2 linked regions of the Homo sapiens genome follow. The protein of the gene in region 1 purifies or fractionates together with the protein of each later gene. This does not show direct contact. Each region holds a gene or a part of one and is shown on either strand. Other genes may lie near its edges.

Evidence for each region.
Region 2: the proteins of MOB3A (region 1) and TRIOBP fractionate together in Homo sapiens (co-fractionation; one large-scale study listed by BioGRID). This does not show direct contact.

Annotation. Positions count from the first base shown.
Region 1 is NC_000019.10:2,075,543-2,079,352, forward strand, and holds part of MOB3A (MOB kinase activator 3A), read right to left. Parts: intron 3,138-3,810; 5' UTR 3,019-3,137; coding exon 2,598-3,018; intron 1,472-2,597; coding exon 1,269-1,471; intron 1-1,268. UniProt on the Homo sapiens protein: May regulate the activity of kinases.
Region 2 is NC_000022.11:37,699,876-37,703,685, reverse strand, and holds part of TRIOBP (TRIO and F-actin-binding protein), read right to left. Parts: intron 2,381-3,810; 5' UTR 2,321-2,380; coding exon 2,207-2,320; intron 1-2,206.

The sequences.
Region 1 (3,810 bases):
ACATCAGGATCCCCACATCCATACAGCGCCCAGCAGCCTGGGGAACAATGCAGCCTCTGGGCAGGTTCCAGTGCCAGGCCCTGAATCACGGGCACCCACTCCACTGCTGGTCCCCATCACCGAGACACAATTGTGGGCCCCAATTTCAAGAAGCAACATTGGCTTCAGGGATGTGGACCCCACACCGAGGAATCTGGTCCCTGGGTTCGTCTCCCGATAAAACCTGGTAACGTGGAAAGCAGACAGGCTAGGGCAGATGCAGAGGTACCCGGCTGGCTACAGAAGTCGGGTGGAATCTAGGCAGGTGCGGTGGCTCCTGTCTGTCATTCCAGCACTTTGGGAGGCCGAGACAGGGAGATCACCTGAGTTCAGGAGTTTGAGACCAGCCTGGCCAACATGGCAAAACCTGGTCTCTACTAAAAATACAAAAATTAGCGGGGTGTGGTGGCACGTGCCTGTAATCCCAGCTACTCAGGAGACTGAGGCAGGAGAACTGCTTGAACCCGGAAGGTGGGGGTTGCAGTAAGCCAAGATGGCGCCACTGCACTCCAGCCTGGGTGAGGGAGGCAGACTCCATCTCCAAAAAAAAAAAAAAAAAAAAAAAGGCCAGGCACAGTGGCTCCCGCCTGTAATCCCAGCACTTTGAGAGGCTGAGATGGGCAAACCACATGGTCAGGAGATCCATCGAGACAATCCTGGCTAACACGGTGAAACCCCCTCTCTCCTAAAAACACAAAAAATTAGCTGGACGTGGTGGCGCGTGCCTGTAATCCCAGCTACTTGGGAGGCTGAGGCAGGAGAATCACTTGAACTCGGGAGGCGGAGGTTGCAGTGAGCCGAGATCGCACCACTGCACTCCAGCCTGGGTGACAGAGTGAGACTCCGTCTCAAAACAAACAAAAACAAACAAACAAAAAAAGTCGGGGTGGAGTCTGCTTGTGCCGGCTCGCATCCCTTTCATAAGGGACACTGAGCGGCGCTCTGGGACACCTGAGCTCAGGACGGTGAAGGCGGAGTGAGCTGGACGCGGGGCGGCGCGGAGGAAACTGCACCTGTCGCCGGCATTTGTTCCGTGGGAGAACGCAGGATCCCTCCCAGCTACCTCACCACTTGTCCCATCAGCAGGGTCCCCGGGGCCCAACTCCAGCCGGGGCCGCCAGCTGCTGGGCCGACCGCAAGCAGTCAGGGTCCTGGCCCCGGAAGGGTTCCTCTGCCACGGGCCACCAGCCCCACCGTAACCGCACGCCCTCAGCCCCAAGCCCGCGCACCAGTGGCTCCAGCTCCTTGGTGTCGATGAGGCCGAACTCCTTGACGAAATAGTAGAAGTGCTTGTAGCAGGTGTTCACGTGGGCCTCGGAGCCCATCTGCGCGATGCGGTCAAAGTGGTGGATGTAGACGTGCACGAACACGCGGAACAGCCGCGACAGGATCTTCCGCACCGTCTGCAGGAAGTTCTTGGGAAACGGAGTGCCTGCAGGGAGAGGGGTGGGACGGGTCCACGGACTCAGCCAAGTCCATGTCCAGAACCCTTTGCTCCTGGATGTGACAAGGGGCTTCCAGACAGAAATTGCTGGCAGATCGGGCGCGGTGGCTGACGCCTGTAATCCCAGCACTTTGGGAGGCCGAGGCAGGCAGATCACTTGAGGTCTGGAGTTCGAGACCAGCCTGGCCAACATGGAGAAACCCCATCTTTACTAAAAAATACAAATATTAGCCGGGTGTGGTGGCTCATGCCTGTAATCCCAGCTACTCAGGAGGCTGAGGCAGAAGAATCGCTTGAACCTGGGAGGTAGAGGTTGAAGTGAGCCGAGATCGTGCCACTGCACTCCAGCCTGGGTGACAGAGTGAGACACTGTCTCAAAAAAAAAAAGAAAAAGAAAAGAAAAGAAAGGTACGCTGTACTCTGGAGGGACGTGCCCTAATGATCATCCTCAAACCCACGTTTATGGGGTGTCCCTGAGAGCCATGCAGTGCATTACACATCGAGCTGGGCAGGGGGTCCCGCCAACGGGGTGATGATCCTGGTGGGCCCAGGGGCTCCATGGCAGTGATTCTGAAACCACTGAGAACACTGGGCCCAGCACTGGCAGGGGTGCTTGTCTCCTCTGCGAAGGACTCCAGGCCTGATGCTGATCCTGTCATTCTCTGCTTTGGGGTGAGGAGACAGGAGTCACCAGGAGTGATTCAGGATGAAGGGGGGCTACTAAGAGCAGCCCAACTTAGGAGAATACTCAGAAATGGAATCCTTTTTTTTTTTTTGAGACAGGGTCTTGCTCTGTCACCCAGGCTGGAGTACAGTGGCACGATCATAGTTTACTGCAGCCTCAACCTCCTAGCCTCAAGCGATCCTCCCACCTTAGCCTCCCGAGTAGCTGCGACCAAAGGCGTGTGCCACCATGCCTGGCTAATTTTTAAAATTTTTTGTAGAGATGGGATCTTGCTATGTTGCCCAGGCTGAGCTCAAACTCCTGGGCTCAAGCGATCCCTGGGCTCGGCCTCCCAAAGCGCTGGCATTACGGGTGTGAGCCACTGTGCTCGGCCTCCCTGACTTTTCTGGAAGGCTCTGTATCCCCGAGCCCCTGCCAGCTCTGACTCACCAACGTTGGTGGGGAAGAGGTCCTCGTTGTTGATCTGCGCCTCGATCCAGTCCATCAGCAGGTCCATGTACCTGGGCGCGGAGAGTGCCGTGGGCTTCCGGAACTTATGCTCATCCTGCCAGCGGTACTCATACTTGGGGCCCCCCGACATGACGGGGCAGGACTGCTCCGTGCAGCCGTCGCTGATGGTGCCGTAGATGAGGTTGACGCGGTTAAAGAAGTCCACCACGTGAACAGCCACCCAGTCGTTCAGGTCCTCGCCCGGGGGCAACTGCACGGCCAGCCGCAGGTCCAGCCCGGCGTTCAGCGACGCCTGCGCCTTCTTGTGCAGCTCGAAGCGCTGGGTGCCTGGCTCAAACTTGCGCTTGGGGCGGAATGTCTTGTCCTTGTTGAAGACTTGCTTCAGGAAGGGGTTGGACATCTTGGTGACGCCTGCTCTCCTGGACTTCTGTAGAGGGGTCCTGGGCCAGCTGGCTGGGGGTGCTGACCAACCCGAGAGGCCACGAAACACTCACCAAGCCCCACAGCTCTCCCGCGGACCTGAAATACACAGGGGAATCATGACCTGCTGGAGGCGACAGAATTTCCCGGAAACTCGTGCTGAGGGCACAAGCGGCAGGATTTTGTTTTGTTTTTTGAGACAGGGTCTTACTCTGTTGCCCCGGCTGGAGTACAGTGGTGCCATCACAGCTCACTGCAACCTCTGCCTCCCAGGCCCAAGCGATCCTCTCAACTTAGCCTCCTGAATAGCTGGGACTATAGGCACACACCACCACACCTGGGTAAGTTTCTTTATTTTTAGTAGAAACGAGGTCTCACTATGTTGCCCAGGATGGTCTCCAACTCCTGGGCTCACATGATCCTCTCACCTCTGCCTCCCAAAGTGCTGGGCTTACAGGTGTGAGCCACTAGTGGCAGGGTTCAAAACATCCCCTGGACTTTTGACTTTAAGGAGTTTCACCCAAAGGGGGCCACCTCCTCAGTGGACAGAAGAGAACTGCGCGTGGCGAGGCCTGACCGATTCACAGCAGAAGGTGCGCAGAGCCGGGCCCCAAGAGCCCGCAGGGGCCGCATCTTCCCCGGTGCCGATGCCTGGCCCGGACCTAGACTTGCTGCTACCCAGCACTGTGGGGCTTGAGTGTGGGGCAGGCTGAGATGCCAGTCACAGGGGACTGCATGGCCGGACTACGGCCTCCACAAAGGAAGCCACACC
Region 2 (3,810 bases), on another chromosome or scaffold:
AAAAAGACAAAAAATTAGCTGGGCGTGGTGCCGGGTGCCTGTTGTCCCAGCTACTCATGAGGCTGAGGCAGGAGAATGGCATAAACCTGGGAGGCCGAGCTTGCAGTGAGCCCAGATCGCACCACTGTACTCCAGCCTGGGCAACAGAACGAGACTCTGTCTCAAAAAAAAAAAAAAAAAAAGAGGACCTTCAGACCCCAATGGGAATGACGAAGCCATGGTGGTCAAGGTTGGAAGGGCCCTCGGAGGTTCGTGAGTCCCAGGTTTCTCATTGCGTGTGTATCAGGTGCTCTGTGTTTACATGCATGGGGGCTTGGCAGCAGACTACATCAATCACAAAGTCAGAAAAGGACTCTTCTTCACTCCTTCAATAACTTGAAGAAGAAAATCTCGGCCAGGCGCGGTGGCTCACACCTGTAATCCCAGCACTTTGGGAAGCCGAGGCAGACAGATCACAAGGTCAGGAGTTCGAGACCAGACTGACCAACATGGTGAAACCCTGTCTCTACTAAAGATACAAAAATTAGCTGGGCATGGTGGTGGGCACCTGTAATCCCAGGTACTCAGGAGGCTGAGGCAGGAGAATTGCTTGAACCCAGGAGACGGAGGTTGCAGTGAGCTGAGATTGAGCCACTGAACTCTAGCCTGGCGACAGAGAGAGACTCCGTCTCAAATGAAAAAAAAAGAAAGAAAAAAAAGGATTCTTCTTCACTCCTTCAATAACTTGAAGAAGAAAATCTTGAGACCAGGTGCAGTGTCTCACACCTGTAATCCCTGCAGTTACAGAGGTTGAGGTGGGAGGATCACCTGAGCCCAGGAATTTGAGACCAGCCCTGGCAACATAGTGAGATCCCATCTTTACAAGAAAATTAGCTGGCCATGGTGGCATGTGCCTGTAGTCCCTGCTACTCAGGAGGCCAAGGTGGGAAGATCATTTGAGCCTGGGAGGTCGAGGCTACAGTGAGCCATGTACTATAGGTTGGACCACTGCACTCCAGCCTGTGCTACAGAGCAAGACCCTATCTCCAAAAAAAAAAAAAAAAAAAAAAAAGAGAGAGAGAAAGAAAATCTCTAGATGATGCTGGTGTATTCTTAACATCTCTCTAACATCTGCTAATCTCCCTTTTTGACAAAGAGACAGCAGGATGCAAGCTCAGAGCCTTCCATAGAAAACACTCTCGAGGCCAGGCGCGGTGGCTCACGCCTGTAATCCCAACACTTTGGGAGGCTGAGGCGGGTGGATCACCTGAGGTCAGGAGTTTAAGACCAGCCTGGCCAATATGGCGAAACCCCGTTTCTACTAAAAATACAAAAATTAGCTGGGCATGGTGGCAGGCACCTGTAATCCCAATACTTGGGAGGCTGAGGCGGGAGGATCGCTTGAACCTAGGAGGCAGAGATTGCAGTGAGCTGAGATCACACCATTGCCATTGCACTCTAGCCCAGGCGACAGAGTGAGACTCTGTCTCAAAAAAAAGAAAAAGAAAAAGAAAACACTCTCAAGTTAGGGTGTAACGACATTTCTGTTTTGTTTTTTCTTTTTCTACCTTTCTTCTCTTTTTTGTTTTGTTTTGTTTTGTTTTTTGAGACAGTTTCATTCTGTTGCCCAGGCTGGAGTGCAATGGCGCGATCTCGGCTCACCACAATCTCCGCCTCCCAGGTTCAAGTGATTCTCCTGCCTCAGCCTCCCAAGTAGCTGGGATTACAGGCATGCACCACCATGCCCAGCTAATTTTCACCATGTTGGCCAGGCTGGTTTCAAACTCCCGACCTCGGGTGATCCACCCACCTCGGCCTCCCAAAGTGCTGGGATTACAGGCGTGAGCCACCGTGCCCAGCCTCTACCTTTCTTCTTAACCTCTTCTTCTTAACAGGAAGTAATTCTAGTTTTCTACTTGTGTTGATGATGTGAAGTTTTGTTTCAATAGAAGGGGAAAAAGATGTTGATTTAAAGAATAACAAAGTAAGTAACAGATTAGATAAGGCTATGGTAACAATCGTATCATATAAGCAGGAGGAAAGTGACTGAAGATTGTGAAACATTCACATGGTTCAACCACTTCCCTGCAATGTGGGAAAACCGAGGCTCTCGACAGGAGGAAGTCCAGCATCTGGGTTCAACTGCGAGTTAGCGGACACCACAGGCCCAGTCCTTCACCCATGCCCCCATCACAAACCACCCCAACCACGTGGAAAACTGGCCCACCTGGTATCTTGCTCCATGGGCCTCCTCAGGGTGGAAGCAGTTTTGACAGCGGTTCTGGGTAAGTATGTTGGCCTCAAAGTGTTCACACAGGGCATCCCCAGGCACCTCCTCCATATTGGGTGAGTCAGGCCAGGGCAGTTCCTATGATCCAATGGCTGACCGTCTATGTGAGGCCTGGCAAAAATGAGGGGGAGGCAAAGACCAGATGACTGGCTGGCCACTCACCTGAACCCCAGCCCCAGTTGCCCCAGTTTCCAGACAAGGACCAAGGAAATAAGGTTACTCATCCATTCCTTTGGGTTCCTGTTCTCCATCCATTCCTGTTCATTTATTCACTCAACAAACACTCACTAAGCACCTACTAAGCACCAGGCACTCTGCCAGCATTTGATGTGCGATTTCTAGTCCTTACTGCAGTGTTGCTGAAAGTGCACGCCAAGGACTCTGCATTACACCCTCCTGGGCTGTTCATAAAAATGCAGATACCAGGCCAGGCACAGTGGCTGATGCCTGTAATCCCAGCACTTTGGGAGGCCGAGGTGGGCCGATCACTTGAGGTCAGGAGTTCGAGACCAGCCTGGCCAATATGGTAAAACCCTGTCTCTACTAAAAATACAAAAATCAGCCAAGTGTGATGGCACGTGCCTGTAATCCCAGCTACTTGGGAGCCTGAGGCAGGAGAATGGCTTGAACCCAGGAGGCGGAGGTTGCAGTGAGCCAAGATTGCGCCATTGCACTCCAGCCTGGGCGACAGAGTGAGACTTCATCTCAAAACAAAAAACAAAAAAATGCAGATTCCAGCTGGGCCCATTGCGGGCGGCGGATCATTTGAGCCCAAGAGTTCAAGACCATCCTGGGCAACTGGCGAAACTCCGTCTCTACAAAAAATACAAAAATTAGCTGGGCAAGGTGGTGCAGGCCTGTGGTCCCTGCTACTCAGGAGGCTGAAGTTGGGAGGATCACCTGAGTCTGGGAGGTCGAGGCTGCAGTGAGCCATGACTGTGCCACTGCACTGAGAAAAAAAAAAAGCAGATTTCAGCTGGGTAAGATGGTGTGCACCTGCAGTCCAAGCTACTCGGGAGGCAGAGGTGGGAGGATCTCTTGAGCCCAGGAGTTTGAGGTGGTAGTGTGCTATAACTGCACCTGTGAATAGTTACAGCACTCCAGCCTAGGCAACATAGCAAGACCACATCTCAAAAAAAAAAAAAAAAAATCTAGATTCCCCTTTCTCTCTCCCAATTCACACAGTTAGAATCTCCAAGAGACTGAGGTCTGGGGCTGTGCATGTTAAAGAAGTGATTCCAGCCGAGGGCGGTGGCTCACGCCTGTAATCCCAGCACTTTGGGAGGCTGAGGCAGGCAGATCACTTGAGGCCAGGAGTTCAAGACCAGCCTGGCCAACATGGTGAAACCCCGCCTCTACTAAATACAAAAATTAGCTGGGCGTGGTAGCACGCACCTGTAGTCCCAGCTACTTGGGAGGCTGAGGCACGAGAATCGCTTGAACCTGGGAGGCAGAGGTAGCAGTGAGCGGAGAGCACGCCACTTCACTCCAGACTGAGCAACAGAGCGAGACTCCATCTCAAAATAAATAAATAAATAAAT